Linked DNA regions of Homo sapiens. The protein of the gene in region 1 purifies or fractionates together with the protein of each later gene. This does not show direct contact. Each region holds a gene or a part of one and is shown in the gene's direction. Other genes may lie near its edges.

Region 1 (3,500 bases):
GCCTCCTGAGTAGCTGGGACTACAGGCGCCTGCCACCACACCCAGCTAATTTTTTTTGTATTTTTAGTAGAAGCAGGGTTTCACCGTGTTAGCCAGGATGGTCTTGATCTCCTGACCTCGTGATCCGCCCACCTCGGCCTCCCAAAGTGTTGGGATTACAGGTGTGAGCCACCATGCCAGGCCCCAACATTTTATATTTAGTTGTTTGCTTAATATTTCTGCCCTTCACCAGAGTGTTAGCTTCTTGAAGGCAGGAACTTCGTGTGTCTGGGTCACTGCCAAACCCCTCAGGCCCAGAACAGGCCCTGGCACATAATAAGTGCTTAGGTAGGCCGGGCGCAGTGGCTCACACCTGTAATCCCAGCACTTTGGGAGGCAGGAGGATCACCTGAGATCAGGAGTTCGAGACCAGCCTGACCAACATGGTGAAACCCCTTCTCTACTAAATGAAAAAAATTAGCCGGGCGTGGTGGCGGCCACCTGTAATCTCAGCTACTCAGGAGGCTGAGGCAGGAGAAACACTTGAAACTGGGAGGCCGAGGTTGCAGTGAGCCGAGATTGCACCATTGCACTCCACCCTTGGGCAACAAGAGTGAAAACTCCATCTCAAAAAAAAAAATTTTTTTAGGCTGGGCGCGGGGGCACATGCCTGTAATCCCAACACTTTGGGAGGCCAGGGTGGGTGGATCACCTAAGGTCAGGAGTTTGAGACTGGCCTGGCCAACATGGAGAAAACCCGTGTCTACCAAAAATACAAAAAAAATTAGCTGGGCGTTGTGGTGGGCACCTGTAATCCCAGCTACTCGGGAGGCTGAGGCAGGAGAATCGCTTGAACCTGGGAGGCAGAAGTTGCAGTGAGCCGAGATCACACCATTGCACTCTAGCCTGGGCAACAGAGCGAGAGTCTGTCTAAAAAAAAAAGATTTAAAAAGTGCATAGTTAATATTTGTTGAATAAAACTTGGGATGTATCATATCTTGCAGGTGCGTTAGGGCAGAAAAATTAGTGTTGCCTCCTTTGTCTGAGTCTGAGTTTCCTTATCAGTTAAGTTAAAGGGCTTATTTGAAATTCTCTGTTATGTGCTGAGATGGAAATGGTGTTAGAAGTTATAGGATGCGGCCGGGCGCGGTGGCTTATGCCTGTAATCCCAGCACATTGGGAGGCCAAGCAGATCACAAGGTCAGGAGATCGAGACCATCCTGGCTAACACGGTGATACCCCATCTCTACTAAAAATACAAAAAATTAGCTGGGCATGGTGGCGGGTGCCTGTAGTTCCAGCTACTTGGGAGGCTGAGGCAGGAGAATGGCATGCACCCAGGAGGCGGAGCTTGCAGTGAGCTGAGATTGCGCCATTGCACTCCAGCCTGGGCTACAGAGCGAGACTCTGTCTCAAAAAAAAAAAAAAAAAAGGAAGTTATAGGATACAGCATAGATAGGCAGGGTATTGGTGCTGTTATTCTCCTTTTTTTACCCCCTTTTATGCTCCTCTAGGTCATTTTTCCACCCCAAGAAAGAGGGTAAAGCAAAGAAGCCTGAGAAGGAGGCATCCAATAGCAGCAGAGAGACGGAGCCCCCTCCAAAGTATGTCACAGGGCTGGGATATGGTGAATTTTTTCCTTTAGCAGTCAGGATTGTCTTGGTTGCAAGTGTTCAAACCTAATGCAAAATGTCTTGGGGCCCAAAAAACTTTTTCAGCCAGGTGGCCAGAAGTCCAAGAGCAAGAGCAGCTGCAGGCACAGCTGGATCCAGGGCCTCGGAGTTGTCTGTACGTCTCTGTTTCTGCAGGTCTTGGCCTCGTTCTAGAACCAGACATTCTCCATAATGCAGAGAAGCTGGCCGCTGGCCACTGGCCACGTCTTGATGCTGTCTCATCTAAGTAGAAGACAACAGTACTCTTTTTTTTTTGAAATGGAGTCTCACTCTCACCCAGGCTGGAGTGCAATGGTGTGATCTCGGCCCACTGCACTCCAGCCTGGGCGACAGAGCAAGATTCCATCTCAAAAAAAAAAAAAAAAAGGCATCCCAATAGATGCTGGAGACCAATGGCAACCTTAGGCAGGGACTCCATTTGCTCCTCAGCATCACCCATCACAGGGCAGGCACTCTGGAGACTTCCAGAGATGTGTGATGGGTGGGTGAGTGGATGAGTGGGCGGGTGGATTAATGCACTGATGGATGAAATGATGAGATTTGCTGAGGAGACAACCAGAAAATGTTCATTGGATGCTTGAAAGGAAGGGAAGGAAACAGCAAAGAAACCAAAGTGTTTGCGGGCAGTGCCCCCACTCTGCCTGCTGTAGTCGCCCCTTTACACCCCCATTTCCCCACCTTCCAGGGCGGCACTGAAGGAGTGGAATGGAGTGGTGTCCGAGAGTGACTCTCCGGTGAAGAGGCCAGGGAGGAAGGCGGCCCGGGTCCTGGGCAGCGAAGGGGAAGAGGAGGATGAAGCCCTTAGCCCTGCTAAAGGCCAGGTAGGTCCCCATCACCCTGCCCATTTTTACCAGAAGAAACTAATTCCCATTAACCTTTGGAACAGAGTGCAGCAGCTGTTCAGGAGAATTCTGGAGAAATTGCCCGGGAGAGGTAGATGTGTTTCCTGGTTGTGTCGGGGGCAGACACAACCTGGTCCTAATTGCCCCTGCCCTAGGACCTCGGGTGGGCTCCTTCACCACGTTAGGTCTTGGATGCCTCAACTGTAACATGCAGCTCCTGGTAACACCTTCCTCATAGGGTGACTGGGAAGATGAAATGAGTCGATTTACATACAGATCTGAGAATAATGCCTGATGGTAAAACAAGGGCTCAAGGCCCAGCACAATGGCTTACGTCTGTAATCCCAGCACGTTGGGAGGCCAACGTGGGAGGATCACTTGAGGCCAGGAGTTCGAGACCAGGCTGGGCAACATAGCGAGACCCCATCTCTACAAAAAAATGTTTTAAAAATTAGCCAGGTGTGGTGGTGCATGCCTGTGGTGCTATCTCCTTGAGAGGCTGAGGCAGGAGGATCGCTTGAGCCCGGGTGTTCAAGGCTGCAGTGAACTGTGATTGTACCACTGTACTCCAGCCGGGGTGACAGAGCAAGACCTTGCTTCAAAAAAAAAAAAGCAAAAAAATAAGGGTTCAAAAGTATATCTAGCCTCTCCTGTGGTCAGAGGGCTTTTTAACTTCTCCAAATACATTGGACCACTCTCTTCCCCTGTTTAAGTCATTTAATGCTTGTTCATTGCTTTGTGGATGATGTCCAAAGCGTGGTGCTGCTTATTCTGTCAGTGGTGAGGTCAGGTCCTGTGACTCCCTGCCCAAACCCCCTGGTATTACCACCACAGGCCAAAGCCAGGCCTTGTGGAAACCTCCCAGGCCCCTCCTGCTGCTCCTCTCTTCCCCCGCCCATCACATCTGCAGCCGCATCCACAGCTCCTCCTCAGCTCGCTCCATCCTGGCTTCCCACACCCACCAGGTGCACTTCCACCTCTGGGCCACTACCTTCTTTCCCAGCCT
Region 2 (2,176 bases), on another chromosome or scaffold:
TGATCTGTCATGCACCGTCTGCCATGATACTGTGTGAGGATGTGTTCTTCTTCTTAAACATTAAATCAAGAAAGAATCAACAGTGGACCCAGTAAATAGCAGATCAGCCTAGGATAAGATGCCCTAGAAGATGGTGAAGGGAAGTCTCAGAACTACTGTTCTTCAGCAGGCAGCGAAGACACCTGATCCATATTGGAGTGGTGGGATGCGAGCTTCAGGAAGGGATGCCACAAGGAAAAGTGGAAGGGATGATGACTGTCTTCAAGAGGTTACAGGTCTTTAAGAATTTACACGTGAATTGGAGATAAATACAGAGAAAATGAAACACATCAGTAATTCAGTAGTTACCAAGCCCAGAAAGACCAAGTCATACCATGTAGTAAATATAACCAAGGTGCACCAAGGCATTCAACTGTGACTAGTATTAATGGCGTAAAAAGTAATGCCAGCGCTGGAGACTGGCTTAACAACAACAAACACCACTTCATCAGGAGGATGGGTCGGGGCAGGTGCTATGTAAGTGGTAAAACAGCTGTTTGTATCCTTCACTGAAGAATTTATTAGATTTTTATCTAAAATTATGAAGTAGGCCAGGCACGATGGCCCACTCCTGTAATCCCATCACTTTGGGAGGCTGTGGCGGGCGGATCACTTGAGGTCAAGAGTTCGAGACGAGCCTGGCCAACGTGGTGAAACCCTGTCTCTACTACAAATACAAAAATTAGCCAAGTGTGGTGGTGGGTGCCTGTAATCCCAGCTACTTGGGAAGCTGAGGCAGGAGAATTGCTTGAACCCAGGAAGCAGAGGTTGCAGTGAGCCGAGATCATGCCACTGCACTCCATTCTGGGTGACAGAGCTGGACACCCTCTCAAAAAAAAAAAGTAAATAAAATTATGAAAAGCATGTTATTTAGAAATAGGCTAAATACCAGAAGAAGCTGCTGTGTGAGTCAAAAGTGACTCCTTCCAGAACTTGGGAATGGGAGGAGGAAGGGGAGAGAGACAGCTCCAGAGGAGTCAGTTACATGGCTTCCTCCCAGGCCACTCCTAGAGTCGTGCACTAGGTGTGCCCTAGTTACAAACCTTGTCCTGTCAGTATTTGACTTTTTAAATGATGCATACGTATTGCTTTGATAAAAACAGAAACAAAGATTGTTCTGAAATTAGTAACATCCGTAACTTCAAAGATGATTATTACAGGTGACAAAGGTAATCAAAAGTTATTTTAAACTTTTGTCTTTAAGCATTGAAATGATATTACTGTCTGTCACGACAATCTTTTCAATTTGGAATTCTTCTTTTTTTCTTTTTTTCAGTTTGTATGCCAGAAGAAGGGTTTAAAGGTAAGTTACATTTGTCATGTTTTGTTCATGAATGTCAGAGTCATCCTGTAATTTTCTGTTAAAGCGAAGGCTATAATTTGATTTTAAATTTTAATCCAATCTGAGTCTCATGACTGAAATTAATTTTAGTTAAATGCATTTCTTACTCAAGCTTCTTCATTATCTTTTTCAACACTCAGGCCTCAAATGGGGCCTCAGCTGGGGCTTTTGTGTTAGAACTGTTTCTTGCCAGATGTCCATTTGGCCTTCCCTTTCTCATTTTATGGGAGGTTGGGAAATTAGCTAGTGGCATTTCAAGATTTATTTTTAACCTTTTCCCAGTTCTTCCTATCAAGTCCCCTCCTAGAGCAAAACAGTGTGTAACTATTAAGAATTAGTGGCACAAGAATTTGTCAGGTTTTATCAAGTCCAGTGAAAAGATTTAATTAATCACTTAGCATTAAGGCATTTGTTGGATTATTACTTCAAGAGGAGACACGGTGGTGCTCGTACTACATCTGGGCCATGTAGTTGTGCACACCGATAATATTCAAGAAGTCATCAAATACAGACCTCTGACGTTTTCGGATTTTCCTGTTGCTGTCTTGATTCTTTGCTGGCCACTCCAGAAGCCCCTGGCAGGTTGTGATTTTCTAAGGAATGACTTTGAATCACATACCAGCTATTCCTTGCTAAAGCAAATGAGAGACAAATCTACTGGCCAAAATAAAGTCTTCCTCTTGCTGCAGCTGTGTTGTCTGCATGCTACCATTACAAAGGGACTCCTGATGGGGTCAAAACAAAGCAAAAAACGTCTTTATGAAAAATGGTCATTGGCCGGGCATGGTGGCTCAC
Region 3 (4,013 bases), on another chromosome or scaffold:
AATGGCATGATCTGGGCTCACTGCAACCTCTGCCTCCTGGGTTCAAGCGATTCTCCTGCCTCAGCCTCTCAAGTAGCTGGGACTACAGGCACCTGCCAACATGCCCGGCTTTTTTTTTTTTTTTTTTGAGATGGAGTCTCACTCTGTCACCCAGGCTGGAGTGCAGTGGCGTGATCTCTGCTTGGCGTGATCTCTGCTTGGCGTGATCTCGGCTCACTGCTACCTCCGCCTCCTGGGTTCAAGTGATTCTCCTGCCTCAGCCTCCTGAGTAGCTGGGATTACAGGCTCACGCCACCACGCCCGGCTAATGCCCGGCTAATTTTTGTATTTTTGTAGAGACGAGGTTTCACCATGTTGGCCAGGCTGGTCTTGAACTCCCAACCTCAGGTGATCCTCCCGCCTCGGCCTCCCAAAGTGCTGGGATTACAGGCGTGAGTCACCGCGCCCGGCTTCGTTCTTTCTTGTCTCCATGTCTTTGTATGCTGTTCTCTTTGTCTAGACAGCCTTTTAACCTCTATTCCTGAACTCCACCCACCCTTCCAAACTCAGTAAAGTCTCTATCCTCTTTGAAGCCTTCCCTGACCAGCTACACTTCCTTTCTTTGTATCATTGTCTTTGCTTCATACACAGTTCTAGGATAGCTCATACTTTGCATACTGCAAACTTGATCTCCATTGGCCAGCCAGTGCCATTAGACTCCCAACTACTTCGGGGCAGTCACTGTCCTATACCCTGCTTCAATAAAAGGAAAATCAGCCCCTAGAACAGGACCTAGTACAACTAAGTGCACAATAAATACTTGTTAAATGAATGAATGAATTTCAAGACGCTTGAGACCACTGGTAAGAATTTTGGGTTTCCAAAACCCTCCCCTTCCCAACCCCCATTCGGTAAGAATGCTTTCGCATTAGCATCAGGTCCGAGGTTACTCATTAGAAACTGGGCAAAGCCGGAAGGCGGCCACTTTGCAGCAAAGAAGCCCTAGACCTTGGGAGTCAATCAGGCCAGCCCAGGCCGCACCACGGTCTCCTAGTTGACAGTTCGAGGGGCCTCGCGGGCCGCTTGCTTCGTCAGCTTACAGGGATCCCGCACGCCAGGTGAGCCCACACACTGAGCGGACATTGGGGCAGGCAGGCAGGCGCCGGGGGGCGGGGCCAGCGTCGCCCCGCCCCGTCCTGCCTCGCCCTGTTCGCGCGTCCGCTGTCCGGCCTCCGGTCACGTGACAGCAGCGCAGGTGAGCGCCGCTTCCGGGGTCGGGCGCCTGGATAGCTGCCGGCTCCGGCTTCCACTTGGTCGGTTGCGCGGGAGACTATGGCGTCCTCCTCGGTCCCACCAGCCACGGTATCGGCGGCGACAGCAGGCCCCGGCCCAGGTTTCGGCTTCGCCTCCAAGACCAAGAAGAAGCATTTCGTGCAGCAGAAGGTGAAGGTGTTCCGGGCGGCCGACCCGCTGGTGGGTGTGTTCCTGTGGGGCGTAGCCCACTCGGTGAGAACCAGCCCTAGACCCCCGCAGCCCTGTCCAAACCCCTCGGCTCCGAGGCGTCCCTGTTTCCAGGCTCCAGCCTCCGGAGCCCCACGCAGTGCCACTCCCCTCCCCCGGGTTGTCTTGGTCCCTGCCCACCAACCCCAGGTGTTCCCCCAGCAGGTTTTCTGACTGTGGACTTTTTTCTCCCCAACAGTTCTTTACTGCTCCACTCTAGTTCCACCTTCCCCCCGTGAAATCCAGCTCCCTGTGCTTTGACTCCTTCCTGCCATGTCTAGCTTCAGCCTCAGGCTACGCGGACTGGCCAGGACCGGGCGCAAGCGGGGAGGACATTAGGGGGAGTGGCTTTTTCTCGGGTGGTTGTTGGTGAGAGTGTAGGTGGAGGGTGAGGGGCCGAGGGGAGTAGATGGATGAAAAGGTTCTTTCACTTTGCTTTCCACCTTGCTTCCCAGCCCCGGTCCTTGGCTTTTGAATCTTGGTTTTGTCTCGGGGAAGCTCCAGGTTTCCTGGGCTTTCTAATCCTGCTTGTCCCTTCCTTTCCCTTCCAGAGGTACAGCATTTTAGAGAAGCTACCCCACCCTGAGCTAGAAGTTGCACACTCTCAGGACTTATGTATATATGCCTTTGGTCTTAACTGCATCCTTATCGCTGGCTAGAGCGATCGTGTTTGGTGTAGGTGGTGGCGATTGTTGACCAAAGAGAAGGCTGAGGGGCTCTGTTCCTGAGGTCACTATGGTGGTGAACTTTTGAAGCAGGAAACTGCTCTGGGAGTCAGGAGGAGGCCAAGGAGACCTCCATCCCCTTTCCTGAGGATACCTCAGCTGAAAGAAGCACAGCCATTGCCCATCTTCCGTCAGGTCTGGAGTGGGAGAAATGCAGTTATCTTGAATGTGACACGGAATATTTTCGAAATCAGCGTTCTTGAATATAGTCATGGCTAGGCTGTGGAGATGGAAGTTGTGAGGAAGAATACGCGTTTTGTCACATTTTTAATTTGTGGTAAAGAATTTCTTAACCAAAAATTAAGAATGTTGTTTGTGGCCAGTCGGATCTCTTTTGGATTTGTGGCTCTCTGGGTGGTAAGCTCTTAGTGAGTATTCAGTGGAAGGCACTTGGTATGGGGAAGGCTGATGGAGGTAGGGCTGCCTCTCATATGTACCTTCCAGGTGATTCATCCATTCCCTGTGGGATGCTTAACAGGGAGGGTTTTCCCTTGTTAAGGATTGGGGGAGTTACATGTAAGACCTACCTCAGCTTCACTAGGTATATATACTTTAGCCCCAGCACCCCACCCTCTGCCAACACACATCTACTTCAAGTGTTTGGAATGGAGAAATTCCTTGAACATATGTCTTAGTGATGATTCAGCTTGCTTAGCAGGTGGGGAGGAGGGGGCAGGAGGAGCTATAGCTGAATTTTAGGCTGGGAGTCTCAAGTGGCTTTTTTTTTTTTTTTAATCTGGAGGGATATGTTCTGTCCTCCTTTTCTACTGAGAACGGGAGGAGTTGGTTGCACTGCAGTGTGTGTGATTTAGGTTAGACTGCAGTTCATAGCCTCTGTGGAATGATCTAGTAAGGATAGGCAAGGCATTCATTTATTCAATTAATAGACATGTCAGGATCACTGTGTGCCAAACATTGTGCTAGTTAGACACCTGAAAGATGCAGACGACTAGAATGAGCCCTTGTTCTTGAAGAGCTCACAATCTAGATGGGAGAACTTACATAAACTAGTGATTAGAGTCATGCAGTAACAAAGGCAGGTGAAAGGTACTGTAGCAACACCAAGGAGAAAGCACGGCTCAGGATTTTTAAGTACTAGAGCTCCCTTTCTACCCTGAATTAGCAGACTGCAGATCCTGGGGGCCGAGGAGAGCATGTGATGCTTGTGTCCTTTGGGCTGTGGATTAGTTTGGCTTTAGGGAACAGACGCCTAATGAGCTCATATCCTCTGATTGCCTGCATTCGCTCTGAAATCAGCTGCTCTTCCTTTACCTTACACCTTAGACAGGTGGGGGCCTACTGCAAACAACTGGGTCAGAGTGGTCTAGGAAGACTGGTCCTGTTTGCAAAGAGATGCCTTTTGCAGGATATGGACATTTATCCTTTTTGCTGTGGTTGGCCCCACAGAATCCCATTAACACTCTTGTGCATTTTTAAAATGCCTTTTTTTTTCTTTTTCTAATGGAACATGTAGCTGCCTTGAGCTTGCAGAGTTTTTTTTTTTTTTTTTTTTTTTTTTTTTTTTCTAGAATTTCTCACAGCTTTAAAAATAGTCCTGAGTTGCTTACAGGGTTAGCCTAATATAAAATGACTGTTGTGAGCATGAAGTTCCATGGGGGTGGGCGTGTTGGGGGCTGTGTGTGAGGGTTGCTTACTGTAGTCCTTCTTGGGCAGCAGAAGGGTTAGACACATTCTCTCACTTCTGTCAAGCATATGCATAGCCAGTGTTTTTAAAGGAATGAGGTCTGAGTGGCCCTTGCATGACTGCTGCCCAGACACAGTGTATGGGTAGCTCTCCACACCCTTCTT
Region 4 (2,299 bases), on another chromosome or scaffold:
GTCAGTTGGCTTCTGCAGTTAACATTCCAAAAAACCCAAGTGGAAGGTACAGGGCTTTTTATGACCTAGCTTTGGAAGTCATACAGCATCACTTATGAGCTAAGTAACTTAATCTCTCTGTGCTTTAGTTTTCTCTTCTATAAATGGAGATAACTATACATACTTCATAGGACTGTTTTGAGGATTCAATCAATTAATATAGATATAAGGTCCTTAGAACAGTGTCCAGCATCTATTAATGCTCAATAAATGTGACCTATTATTGGCCAGGCATGGTGGCTCACACCTGTAATCCCAGCACTTTGGGAGGCCAAGGCGGGTGGATCACTTGAGGCCAGGAGTTCGAGACCAGCCTAGCCAACACTGAAACTAAAAATAGAAAAAATTAGCTGTGTGTGGTGGCGCACTCCTGTAGTCTCAGTTTCTTGGGAGGCTGAGGCATGAGAATCATTTGAACCCGGCAGGCAGAGGTTGCGGTGAGCCGAGACTGCACCACTGCACTCCAGCCTAGGTAACAGCAAGACTCTCTCTCAAAAGAAAAAAAAAAAGTTACCTATTATTAATAGCTTTATGTCCTCAGTGTCATTTATCATTTAGTCTTTTAGAATTGGAGAATAACTTTTATAAAGGGTATAAGTAGGACATTACTTTCTCATTCATTAAGTTCTTCTATCAAATAATTATTAAGCACTATGTGCCAGATGCTTTTCTAGACAGTGAATATGATGCAATTAATAAAGATTTAATTAAATTCAAATTTTTACTAGGTTTTAGTTGGTCTCTGATTATAGGTTTGTGATATGTGCAAATATTGGTCTCATACTTTGTTATTTTTGTTCTTCAGTTTCATACATATTTTGACTAGAACATCTGAAACTAGATTAAATAAAGGAGTTGGCCATTAATTTTGAATCACATTTATTTTAATGAAAACTAACTTTTATTTTTAGGAGTATCTAACTATCAAGTTGAAGAAGATATAGGAAAGTTGAAGTCTTGTCTCACTGGCTTCCTTCAGGAATATGGTTTATCTGTAATGGTGAAAGATGATTATGTCCACGAATTGTGAGTATTTTTTAGGGTATCTAGGAGATGATTCCACACCTGTCATAAGGCTAATCAAAATTCATGTCTCTGTGGTCTCCTTTAGTTGCCGATATGGAGCTGCTGAGCCACATACCATTGCTGCATTCTTGGGGGGTGAGTTCCATATATGAGAAGACTCACCTGTTGTTACATAGTACAGTTACTATTTTAATACAAAGTTTTGTCGTCTAGCTATTTTAATTAGGGAGGTCAGTGAAGCAGGATGTTATATTTCTTTCTTTTTTTTTTTTTTGAGACGCAGTCTCACTGTTTTGCCCAGGTTGGAGTGTATTGATGCCATCATAGCTCGCTGCAACCTCAAACTCCTGGGCTCAAGTGATCTCTCGCCTCCGCCTCCTGAATAGCTGGGACTACAGGCATGTGCCAGTAAGCCTGGCTAATTTTTCAATTTTTTGTAGAGACAGGGTCCCACTATGTTGCTCAGGTTAGGATATTTATTCAGTTGCCCCTATACTGGTCTCCCTGCCTTCCATCTCTCCCACTGCCATCCAACTTAAACTCCTTAAGAGTCATTAATCCTTCTAAAGCATAGCTCTGATTGTGTCCTTTTACTAACCCTCTGCCCCACCAATATACATAACACTCTACAACAGTCCTCCAAGCAAGTCCAAGGACTTTGGCTTGACGTTAAAAAACCCTGTGTTTTGGTTCCACTCGGCCTTTCCAGCCTTGGTTTTATCATATTACTTGCTTTCCCCCCAGGATGCCCTTTGATTTCCTGCTCCTAGATCTTTGCTCCTCTGTGCCTATTTGCCTTAAAAATATGTTTTTCTGCATGTCCAAAACCTATATGTTCTTCAAGACCCAACTCAAAAATGACATGTCTTTCATAAAAGCTCCCTTTACTTCCCTCCCTCACTCTACTTCCCCCTTGTCTTAGTCAGTTTGGGCTGCTGTAACAGAATATCATAGACTTATAAACAATAAAAATTTGTCACAGAGTTCTGGAGGCTAGAAGTCTGGGATCAGGGTGCCAGCATGGTCAGGTCTGGTGAGCGCCCATTTCCTGGTTCATAGGCAGCTCTCTCTTCTGTGTTCTCACATGGTGAAAAAAAAAATGGCAAGAGAAGTCTCTGGGGTCTCTTCTTAGGGCACTAATCCTATTCATGAAGGTTCTACGCTCTTGACCTAATCACCTACCAAAGGCCCTATCCTCATACAATTACACTGGGGGTTAGGATTTCAACATATG
Region 5 (3,500 bases), on another chromosome or scaffold:
AGATGTTTGGGATATGGGATATAGGGGCTTGCATGTGCAATTTTTCCAGGGTTGTTTTGAGTTTGTTCAGAAGTAGTTAAGTTCCTGTAGTGTTACAGTAGATCATTTCAATCCAAGAACCCATAAAGGCTTCAAGGGACCCTGAGATATTGTTAGTCAAACCTTTTCTTTCCAAGCACCTTCATAGCTGTTTCTTTTTGTCTTCCGAGAAAGATTCTTCATCTGAATGGTGAAGGATTGAACTTACATGGAGGCAGTCTTTGAATTTTGGTTGGCTGCTGCTTTTCAAGCCCATTTTAAGTTTATTAATCTCAATTCTCTATTAAAAGAGTAATAAGTAACTTGGAATGTCATGTATAATTTTCATTTTGTTTGGTTGTATAATTTTATTGAACCATTGCAAAAATATATAACTCAACATAGTTCCAATTAAGATTTAATGTCTTTTCCATCCAGCTCTCTTTGGCAAGTATCTCTTATATTATACATTATGAGAGTTATCTTTCCAATCCAGAGATAATACGATCTTGCCTTTAAGTTACTAGAAGATTGCTAGATTTACTATCCTAGAGTAATGAGCAGAGAGGAAGGCACGAGCTCACACTTGCTTAGCTTTTTAGAATCAAAACTTTCCCTTTTTAACAATAGCAAGAGTTGCCTTTTTTCCCTTTTTTCCCATAAAACAGTAAAAATTTTTTATTAAGCATTATAAGTTGCATTCAGTAGCCTTCAGATATGCCACACCACAATCCATTGGCAGACCATCCAACCCAGCAGCAGTTTGTTCTTGTACAATCCATGAGTTCGGGCAAAACTCCCTTCAACTTACAGTTAAGATCCTACTTAGCTCTTGCGGGCAGGGATTGGGGAATTAGACCTCATTTCTGATCACTAATGTGGTGAAAAGCATCAGAAGTATTTGAAAATGATAAGAAGTGATTCTGATTTTAAAGTACATTGTTTCGAAACATTAACAGAAACATCAAAATGATAGGAGTATACCTGCTTCTATTAAATTCTTGTTGGGAAAGTTCTTAAGAACAAGCAGTTTCCTGAATAGCAAGAGTTTCTACAGATGGATTGCATTTGGTTGTTTATTTATAGTTATGCAAGTTAACTAGTAGTTTAGATATGAAGAGGGCATAATGGAAAATAGTATGAATGGGTAATTTTAATAGCTTTGCTAACAGTGTTGGATGTATGTTTTTCACTGCTTGTTTTGTAAGTTTATTAAACGTTAGCCATATCAAAATTTCTTAGGATCTAATTTCAGGTGGTGCTTATTTGCTGTAAATTTCCAGCAAACTTTCCATGCCAAGGTTATTTATGATGTGAAATGAGAAAAATCAACTTCCTGCAGTTTTGATGCCAAATGTTTCTTTGGAAAGCTACCATGTAATTTCCTCTCTGCTTGAACATTTTGGTTTTTAGGGAGCTGAAAATTGCTTGGAAGGCCTTATATTTGTAATCACAGGCGTGCTGGAGTCTATTGAACGAGATGAGGCCAAGTCTCTAATTGAACGTTATGGGGGAAAAGTAACAGGAAATGTCAGCAAGAAAACAAATTATCTTGTCATGGGTCGTGATAGTGGACAGTCCAAGAGTGATAAGGTGGGTACTGCTTTGTTCTCAACACCATGACACCTCCTGCCTGCCTTGGCACACTCTTGATGTGATTTGCCCTTTACTCAGAGTTAAATGAAGGAAAGAAATAGAAAAGTAATTTCTTGCCTACATTATTTCTTCTCCACAGAAGTGTTATTGGCTCTGACACCAGGATTTTGGTTTTCCAATGGAAGGCATAGTTCCTGTTTACTTGACTTTTTTTTAGTGTATTTAAGTTTAAGTCTTTTTTTATTTTTGAAGATAGAAACAAATGCAGTTTTCTTTTTCTTCCAGTCCGAAGTATTCCTATATATGCCACTGTATACACCATCTTAGGTTTTTTTAAATTGGTGTTTTTAGAAAAAGAATCAGCGGCCTGTTGGGTAGGATTGTGTTTAGCTCCAAACAGCAGAATATCTGATTAACCGTGGATTAAACAGCTGCTAATTTTTCTCACAAGAATTCTGGAGGTATTGCTGGGATAGTTCGGCATCTCAACGATGTGGTTCCTCCATCTGTCCTTATTGTGTTAACTTTTGTCCTCATGCATGTTGCCTTGTGGTTGCAAGGTAGTTGCAGCTCTAGGCATTTAAATTCTTATTCAAGGCAGGAAAAGGGAACAGTGGCAAGTATGTCATAAGAGCTGTGACTGGCCTGACGAGAGTTTTCCCAGAAACATGTCTTATAGAATTTCACATAAGGCTCATTGGCCAGAGCTGTCACCTGGCCACTCAGAGCTGTATGGGAGGTTGGGAAGAACCAAGACGTTTCTGGTTGCCTTGGACCAGTCATCATTCATCACTTGAAGAAGGACACATTGGAGTTCCATCAGCAGGGAAGAAGGTGGGGGAAATGTCTGCCATATGCATTAAATATGGGAGAAGGTATGAAGAGCTGGTCTTAGGCCCTAGTGGCCATTGCCCCTTTCTAGGGGAGGAAAGGTAAAGCAGTCCACAAAAGTAGAAATGGACCACTTCCCATGCCAACCTGCTACTCTTAGGGAATGTATCTGTTATTTTCTTTCTTTTCAATGTTACTTTTTCAATGAATGTGCTATTTTTTGTTTTTCTTTTTTAATTCCAGTGTTATCTTAATTTACGAATGTGGTTTTTCACCTACTAATAGGCCCTAGAATTTTTTTTTTTGTAAGAGAAGGGAATGGTAGGATGCAGGATGCAGTTTTGATGGTTTACATTTTTAATCAACAGGCCGCAGCCTTGGGGACAAAAATTATTGATGAAGATGGCCTGTTGAATCTGATTCGGACTATGCCAGGCAAGAAATCCAAGTATGAAATAGCAGTTGAAACTGAGGTTCGTATAAAATGAATGTGATTTAAGTTGGTGTATATTAACTTTTTAATTTCATAGACATATGTCTTGGGTGGATACAGGCTTGTTGGCTGAAAGATTAACATCCCTGTCTACCACAAATGGACCACCTTAGTTCCTTTTGAGCTGGAAGACTCTGCTTCAAGATGTCTACTTTGTTGTTTTTCCTTATCTTTGTCAGGGAATATGAGTAGAGAAAGGACAGTATATTGCATATAACATATCTACTTATCAAACTTTCCTTATTTTCCATATTACTATTATTACTACTATTTTTTAATTTTTTGAGACAGAGTCTAGCTCTGTCCCTCAGGTCGGAGTGCAGTGGTGTGATCTCGGATCACTGCAACTTCTGCCTCCTGGGTTCAAGCGATTCTCCTGCCTCAGCCTCCTGAGTAGCTGGAACTACAGATACCTGACACCACGCCTGCTAATTTTTATATTTTTAATAGAGACGGAGTTTCACCATGTTGGCCAGGCTGGCCTTGAACTCCTGACCTCAAGTGATTCACCCACTTCAGCGTCCCAAAGTGCTGGGATTATAGGTGTGAGCCACTGTTCCCG
Region 6 (3,500 bases), 6.3 Mb from region 1:
GAGAAGTGCCCGAGGCATGCAGAAAGAAGAACATGTCAGCTGCAAGACCAGAGGCTGGTCATCCGGACGCCAAACCATCAGATATGCAGAAAATTAGGAAATTGCAGTCTTTCCCCTGTCTACATTCTCTTTCCAGAAGAGTGGTTCCCCCGACAACCACATGCACGGAGACTCTGGCCCTCTGAGCAAGGGAGTCCCCTATTCAAGCCTTGGGGTTTCTAGAACACCAGATTGTGGACATCAGCCCAGGGATCGTGCTGACTACCATGTTCTTTTACAGATGTGGAAACCGAGGCCTAGAGAGGGTCAGGGACTTGCCTGAGGTGACCCCGGCGGCCTCTGGGCATTTTGAGGTTTATTCTCGCATAGCTCCCTCACCTCATCAGCTTGTGGGGAGCCGATCAGAGATAGCTGTGGTCCCCTGGGCAGCTTCCTGTTGGCCTGTCTTAGAATTTTGCTATATTTGGGGGGTGTGAAGAGTGGATATAGATGTGTTAAAACTGTTTAAAGTGGAGAAGGAGGACCGGGCCTGGTGGTTCATGACTGTAGTCCCAACGCTTTGGGAGGCTGAGGCAGGAGGATAGCTTGAGCCTGGGAGGTTGAGGCTGCAGTGATTGCACCACTGCACTCCAGCCTGGGCGACAAGAGTGAAACCCTGTCTTGAAAAAAAAAAAAAAGTGGGGCCGGGCATGGTGGCTCACACCTATAATCCCAGAACTTTGGAGGCTGAGGTGGGTAGATCACTTGAGATCAAGAGTTCGAGACCAGCGTGGCCAACATGGTAAAACCCCGTCTCTACTAAAAATATGAAAATTGGCCAGGCGCAGTGACTCACGCATATAATCCCAGCACTTTGGGAGGCTGAGGCAGGTGGATCACCCGACGTCAGGAGTTCAAGACCAGCCTGGCCAACATGGTGAAATCCCATCTCTACTAAAATAGAAAAATTAGCCAGGCACAGTGGTACACACCTGTAATTCCAGCTACTCGGGAGGCTGAGGCAGGAGACTCACTTGAACCTGGGAGGTGGTGGTTGCAATGAGCCGAGATTGCACCATTGCACTCCAGCCTAGGCGGAAAAAAAAAAAAAAAATTAGCCAGGCCTGGTGGTAGGCACCTGTAATCCAAGCTACTCCAGAGGCTGAGGCAGGAGAATCGCTTGAACCCAGGAGGAGGTTGCAGTGAGCCGAGATCACGCCACTGCACTCCAGCCTGGGTGACAGAGCGAGACTCCATCTCAAAAAAGAAAAAGGAGAAAAAGTCCCACTCCCATTGGAGTGAGTTCATTTCCCAGATGAGAGCCCCCAGGAGCCAGGACAGGTTGGAGTCCCCACTGTCACCCAGAACAGGGGCGGGCACTCAGGAAATGCTTGACGAATGACAGAGTGAGCCCCACTTGTCCACCTGTTCTTTCCAAGCCCTCAGTATGCACAAGGCACCACCATCTGGGACACAGATGGATCAACCTACAACACCCCTCAACACACACAAACCCTTAAGCTGCTCACAGTCTTTCCAGGCAGTGGAGTGTAGTAGAGACAGGCTGCCTGGATTCGAATCCTAACTTTGCCACTTAGTAGCTATGTGATTTTGGGTTTTATTTATTTATTTATTTATGAAACAGTCTCGCTCTGTGTCACCCAGGCTGGAGTGCAGTGGCACAATCTCCACTCACTGCAACCTCCATCTCCTGGGTTCAAGCAGTTCTCCCTGCCTCAGCCTCCCGAGTAGCTGGGATCACAGGTGCCCACCACCACACCCGACTAATTTTTTTATTTTTAGTAGAGACAGGGTTTCGCCATGTTGGCCTGGCCGGTCACAAATTCCTGACCTCATGTGATCCACCTGCCTTGGCCTCCCAAAGTGCTGGGATTACAGGTGTGAGCCACTGTGCCTAGCCTAGTTGTGCGACTAAGCTTGACTAAACTTCTTGAGCTCCGTTTTCTCATCTGTAAAATGGGGATAATGACGGTCCCTATGATTGAACACGTTAATGCATGTAGAGGGTGTAGAGCCGTGTCTGGTATACACTAAGCCGTCAGTATAGACAGTAGTAGTAGTTGTTGTCATTATTGCCGGGAGGAGACCATGATGAAGAACCACAAAGGACCATAGCACAGGATGGAAAATTAGAAAATGCTCATGGCAGCCCCAGGGAGCCTGCAGGGGAACCCAGGGCCTGGCTTTAGGGGTGGAGGTCAGGGAGTGCTTCCCAGAGGAAGTGGCAGTTGAGTCCCACAGCCATAGGATGGCCAGGAGGTGAGGAAGGCCCTTTTCAAAGGGAGAGTGTGGTTTGAGGCAGGGTGAGGGAGCGGAGAGTCATGCTGTGTGTCTCCCCCAGCTTTGCTGTCTGCATGCCGACATGCTGGGCTCACTGGGCCCCAAGGAGGCCAAGAAGGCCTTCCTGGACTTCTACCACAGCTTCCTGGAGAAGACAGCGGTGAGAGACCTTCAAGCTGCCCCAACCCTGCAATCCCTGTTTGGGCCTGCAGAGTCACCATGCGGTCCCCAGCCTCTGCCCTGAGGGCAGCTGCTGACCCAGGCCTTCCCCAGCACCCTCGCTTAGACCAGGGTTCCTGGCAGTCCTCCCGGCCTGCATCTCAGCACACCAAGTCCTCCTCTTCACCCCATTCTCTCTCTTGAGCAGGTTCTCCGGGTGCCGGTCCCTCCCAACGTCGCCTTTGAACTTGGTAAGGAGAAGGATGGGATGAGGGAGAGGTGTCTAGCGGGGACCACACCTCCCAGGAGGCCAAGGGGAGGGAGGCCGCACTCCCATGCTCTGCTCGGACAGCCGAGATTCATTCATTCCTTCTTGGCAGCGGCCTCAGGACGTGTGGCTGTTGGAGTCCAAGGGTGGGTGGGGACCGTGGTCCAAGCCACCAGGGAGCTGGACCCTAGCCCCCATGTGTGTCCCTGCAGACCGCACTAGGGCTGACCTCATCTCCGAGGATGTCCAGCGGCGGTTCGTGCAGGAGGTGGTGCAAAGCCAGCAGGTAGCCGTGGGCCGGCAGCTGGAGGACTTCCGTTCCAAGCGGCTCATGGGCATGACGCCCTGGGAGCAGGAGCTGGCCCAGCTGGAGGCTTGGGTTGGGCGGGACCGAGCCAGCTACGAGGCCCGGGAGCGGCACGTGGCGGAGCGGCTGCTCATGCACCTGGAGGAGATGCAGTGAGTAGGCCAGCCCTGGTGGGAGCGTCGCCCCTCCCCAGCACAAGGGCACCCGTGCTACCTCTGGCATGTTCCATCCCGTTTGCAGGTTCCCTCTTCAGGGTCAGAGTTCATTTCTTGGCACTGGGGGTCTTCCTCTACCCTGGTGTTTTAACTCACCTTGAATCCGAGTCTTCCCTTTCCAGCTTTGGGGTTCCCTTGTCATTTCTGGGTCTTGTCCATGATCTGGCACTTGGATCCCATCCTCCTGGATGAGAGACCTCCCTCCCTCTTATGACAGTCCTTCCCAATCCCTTCCACAGTGTCCCCTCTCTGTCTCTCTTCCCCCTGCCTA
Region 7 (3,500 bases), 2.2 Mb from region 1:
ATAAAATAAAATAGTAGATTAATTATATATATTATTTTTCTTTTTCTTTTTCTTTTTTTGACACAGGGTCTCACTCTGTCACCCAGGGTGGAGTGCGGTGGCATGATCTTGGCTTACTCCACCTCCTAGGCTCAAGCAATCCTCCTGCCTCAGGCCCCTGAGTAGCTGGGACCACAGGCGTGCACCACCACACCTGGCTAATTTTTAAAATTTTTTTGTAGAGATAGGGTTTTGCCATGTTGCCCAGGCTGATCTGAAACTCCTGAGTTCAAGCGATCCTCCTGCCTCAGCCTCCCAATGTGCTGGGATTGCAGGAGCGAGCACTGCTCCCAGCCAATGAATGATTTTTTTTTTTTAAAGGGTGAGGCCACAAGACAGGGCGGGGGCGGCATGGGAACTCCTAGCCCTGACTCCCGGCCGCGGCTGCTCCCCTCCCAGGTACTACGACGTCCCCATCGCCACCCTGGACTTCTCCTCGCTGTACCCGTCCATCATGATGGCCCACAACCTGTGTTACACCACGCTCCTTCGGCCCGGGACTGCACAGAAACTGGGGTATAGTGCCCAATTCAGCATGTGTCCCCCGAGGCCCATCTGGGCCTTCCCTTGGGGGGCTCAGTCTGGTGGGGGGCATAGGCACAGGCCCAGAGATAGTAGGGAGTGGAGGGGTGCTTGAGGGGCCTGCGTGTGCTCATGGCCAAGGCCAGGACCGTAGGGCAGAGGTGGGCTGGAGCAGGAGGGTGGCCGGCAGTCACCCCAACATCTTCCAACCCAGCCTGACTGAGGATCAGTTCATCAGGACCCCCACCGGGGACGAGTTTGTGAAGACCTCAGTGCGGAAGGGGCTGCTGCCCCAGATCCTGGAGAACCTGCTCAGTGCCCGGAAGAGGTGAGCCCTGGAGATCGCCTGCTTGGAGCTCAGACCTGTTGGGGCCTCTGGGCAATCCCTGTCCCTCACTGGGACACCCCAGGGCTGCCCAGCCACCCTGCCCTCAGCTGTGCGTGAATTAGCACAAGGCATCCCCTCCTGGCAGCTTCCTTTTGCCCCCTTGGCCAGAAGCTTCTGTGCAGTGCACAGTACGCCCAACCGTACATGGCACTCACTTCCAGAAAGGAGCCCTGACCAATGCCCAGGTGCCGCCTGAGTGTGCTTTCCCCGTGTTCCCTCGCAGGGCCAAGGCCGAGCTGGCCAAGGAGACAGACCCCCTCCGGCGCCAGGTCCTGGATGGACGGCAGCTGGCGCTGAAGGTGAGCGCCAACTCCGTATACGGCTTCACTGGCGCCCAGGTGGGCAAGTTGCCGTGCCTGGAGATCTCACAGGTGGGCACTCGGGCCCCTGGAAGGCAACTGGGGGCAGGTGGGCCCCCTGTGTAGGAGACCAGGGCTCCATGTGGGGGACCTGTATCCAGAGGACTGGGCACCCCAACTCACTGGCCTTCTAGAGAGAGGATGCCAATGTGGCTTGAGCAATTGGTCCATTCCTTCACTCAGCAAATGCCTACTGAGCACACACTGTGGTCAGGGCTCACTCTGTGCCCTGGGGATACAGAGGGGAACAAAATGGATGAGAGCTCCTGTCCCTGTCATCTTGCAGCCCAGTGGGGACACTGACAGGTCTGTGTAAACGTGTTTAGGACACAAGTGGCGCTACGAGCTTTGCAGCCGGATAAAGCAGGAGGTGCGGACTGTCGGGGAGTGATGGGGCTGGGCGGGACTCACCCCTCTCAATAGGCGACGCTCACACAGAGGCCAAGGGACGTGGGGAGGGAAGCCATTCACCGTCCCCACGGCAGCGTCCCGGTCTGCCTACCCACGGCAGCTCTGCTGCTTGAACAGAAAAACAGATTCTTTGAAACCACAGAGGGCCTGAGTTTCCGAGATTGCCAAGCTGGGGTCAGTGCCCCAGCTCCTGGCATATGAGGGCCTCGGAAGGGTCTTCCTGTCCAGCCTTCTCCCCTGGGACTTGAGTCTTGGCCCATTCCAGGCCAGTAGTTGTGCTGCTCTGCTTGGTTACCTCTAGCCACGGGGAGCTCCCTCTCTGGCTGGGCACTGCGCCACTTTTCACAGGGCTCTGGGTGGAAGGCTTGGATGAATTCTCAGTGGGTGGGGCCTTTGCACACACCCACCCACCCGCAGTTCTGGGGGTCCCAAAGACCACTTAGGTTCAGTGATTCACTAGAAGTACTCAGAGAGCAGAAAAGCTGGTTCTCATGGTTATGATTTAATACAGCAAAAGGACACAGATTAAACTCAGCAAAAGAAAGAGGTGCACAGGGCAGGGTATAGGAGGGACCAGGCGTGTCTTCCAGTTGTGCTCTCCCAGTAGAGTTGCCAGGCTGGCCCTCCTTCCTCCCAGTTTTGATGCGTGCCTGCACACATGCAGCATTGCCAACCAGAGGCTCTCACCCAAGCTTTGGGGTCCAGGGTTTTTCTTGGGTGTCAGTCCTATAGGCATGGAGCACCCTGTGACTGGCCTTAGTGACTCCATCATCCCCAGGCCCCTCAGCAACCCCCAGAGGTCAAACTGATACTGCATGGCCCAGGGCCCTACCATAAACCATGTTAGTGTCAACTACCTGGTGTGGTTCAAAGTCCCAGGTACACAAACACCTTTTTTTTTTTTTTTTTTGAGACAGAGTCTCACTCTCTCACCCAGGCTGGAGCGCAGTGGCACAATCGTGGCTCACTGCAGCCTCAACCTCCGGGACTCAGGTGAGCCTCCCACGTTAGCCTCCCAAGTGGCTGGGACTGCGGGCACGTGCCACCTATTTTTGTTATTTTTTGTAGAGATAGGGTCTCGCCATGTTGCCCAGGCTGGAACAGAGACACTGTTATCAGGCGGGATATTCTAGGGGCTTAGACTACCAGGAGCCAGGCAAGAGCCAGACCTTTCTTTGCACAAAGTGAATCGCTCACTGCATGCTCCCAACTCCCCTCTGCCTTTCACAGTCCCCGGCTGCCTCCCCAGCCTCCTTGGTGGAAAGGGGTGGCTGTGTGGACATCAGGCTCTAGCCCTGAAGCAGAGGCCAGGCCAAGAGAGCACAGCTTGGCCCTCCCCTGGGGCTGCCTCTTACCAATCCTGTGTCTCTGTCTTTTCTCTCTCAGCCGCTTCCCTCTGTCACTGTTCTGTTTCTGTCTCTTGACCTCTTTCCTTATTTCTGTCTCTCAAGCTTATGGGAGCAAGAGGTGGAATAATAAAAATGCAATGAATTGGCTGGGCGCGGTGGCTCACGCCTGTAACCCCAGCACTTTAGGAGGCCGAGGCGGGCGGATCACGAGGTCAGGAGTTCAAGACCAGCCTGGCCAACATGGTGAAACCCTGTCTCTATTAAAAATACAAAACATTAGCCAGGAGTGGTGGCAGGTGCCTCTAATCCCAGCTACTCGGGAGGCTGAGGCAGGAGAATCGCTTGAACCCAGGAGGCAGAGGTTGCAGTGAGCCGAGATTGCGCCAGTGCGCTCCAGCCTGGGCAACAGAGCAAAACTCCGTCTCAAAAAAA

Evidence for each region.
Region 2: the proteins of LIG1 (region 1) and USP48 fractionate together in Homo sapiens (co-fractionation; one large-scale study listed by BioGRID). This does not show direct contact.
Region 3: the proteins of LIG1 (region 1) and PIP4K2C fractionate together in Homo sapiens (co-fractionation; one large-scale study listed by BioGRID). This does not show direct contact.
Region 4: the proteins of LIG1 (region 1) and NAE1 fractionate together in Homo sapiens (co-fractionation; one large-scale study listed by BioGRID). This does not show direct contact.
Region 5: the proteins of LIG1 (region 1) and RFC1 fractionate together in Homo sapiens (co-fractionation; one large-scale study listed by BioGRID). This does not show direct contact.
Region 6: the proteins of LIG1 (region 1) and ARHGEF1 fractionate together in Homo sapiens (co-fractionation; one large-scale study listed by BioGRID). This does not show direct contact.
Region 7: the proteins of LIG1 (region 1) and POLD1 fractionate together in Homo sapiens (co-fractionation; one large-scale study listed by BioGRID). This does not show direct contact.

Annotation. Positions count from the first base shown.
Region 1 is NC_000019.10:48,160,345-48,163,844, reverse strand, and holds part of LIG1 (DNA ligase 1), read left to right. Parts: intron 1-1,493; coding exon 1,494-1,583; intron 1,584-2,337; coding exon 2,338-2,473; intron 2,474-3,500.
Region 2 is NC_000001.11:21,679,974-21,682,149, reverse strand, and holds part of USP48 (ubiquitin carboxyl-terminal hydrolase 48), read left to right. Parts: intron 1-1,315; coding exon 1,316-1,342; intron 1,343-2,176.
Region 3 is NC_000012.12:57,589,979-57,593,991, forward strand, and holds the start of PIP4K2C (phosphatidylinositol 5-phosphate 4-kinase type-2 gamma), read left to right. Parts: upstream 1-1,213; 5' UTR 1,214-1,311; coding exon 1,312-1,485; intron 1,486-2,241; exon of another isoform or gene 2,242-2,339; intron 2,340-4,013. UniProt on the Homo sapiens protein: Phosphatidylinositol 5-phosphate 4-kinase with low enzymatic activity. May be a GTP sensor, has higher GTP-dependent kinase activity than ATP-dependent kinase activity. PIP4Ks negatively regulate insulin signaling through a catalytic-independent mechanism.
Region 4 is NC_000016.10:66,804,678-66,806,976, reverse strand, and holds part of NAE1 (NEDD8-activating enzyme E1 regulatory subunit), read left to right. Parts: intron 1-950; coding exon 951-1,065; intron 1,066-1,150; coding exon 1,151-1,200; intron 1,201-2,299. UniProt on the Homo sapiens protein: Regulatory subunit of the dimeric UBA3-NAE1 E1 enzyme. E1 activates NEDD8 by first adenylating its C-terminal glycine residue with ATP, thereafter linking this residue to the side chain of the catalytic cysteine, yielding a NEDD8-UBA3 thioester and free AMP.
Region 5 is NC_000004.12:39,310,863-39,314,362, reverse strand, and holds part of RFC1 (replication factor C subunit 1), read left to right. Parts: intron 1-1,431; coding exon 1,432-1,611; intron 1,612-2,813; coding exon 2,814-2,918; intron 2,919-3,500. UniProt on the Homo sapiens protein: Subunit of the replication factor C (RFC) complex which acts during elongation of primed DNA templates by DNA polymerases delta and epsilon, and is necessary for ATP-dependent loading of proliferating cell nuclear antigen (PCNA) onto primed DNA.
Region 6 is NC_000019.10:41,889,684-41,893,183, forward strand, and holds part of ARHGEF1 (rho guanine nucleotide exchange factor 1), read left to right. Parts: intron 1-2,341; coding exon 2,342-2,440; intron 2,441-2,647; coding exon 2,648-2,690; intron 2,691-2,919; coding exon 2,920-3,166; intron 3,167-3,500. UniProt on the Homo sapiens protein: Seems to play a role in the regulation of RhoA GTPase by guanine nucleotide-binding alpha-12 (GNA12) and alpha-13 (GNA13) subunits. Acts as a GTPase-activating protein (GAP) for GNA12 and GNA13, and as guanine nucleotide exchange factor (GEF) for RhoA GTPase.
Region 7 is NC_000019.10:50,408,347-50,411,846, forward strand, and holds part of POLD1 (DNA polymerase delta catalytic subunit), read left to right. Parts: intron 1-360; coding exon of another isoform or gene 361-438; coding exon 439-555; intron 556-775; coding exon 776-889; intron 890-1,172; coding exon 1,173-1,320; intron 1,321-1,594; exon of another isoform or gene 1,595-1,678; intron 1,679-3,500. UniProt on the Homo sapiens protein: As the catalytic component of the trimeric (Pol-delta3 complex) and tetrameric DNA polymerase delta complexes (Pol-delta4 complex), plays a crucial role in high fidelity genome replication, including in lagging strand synthesis, and repair.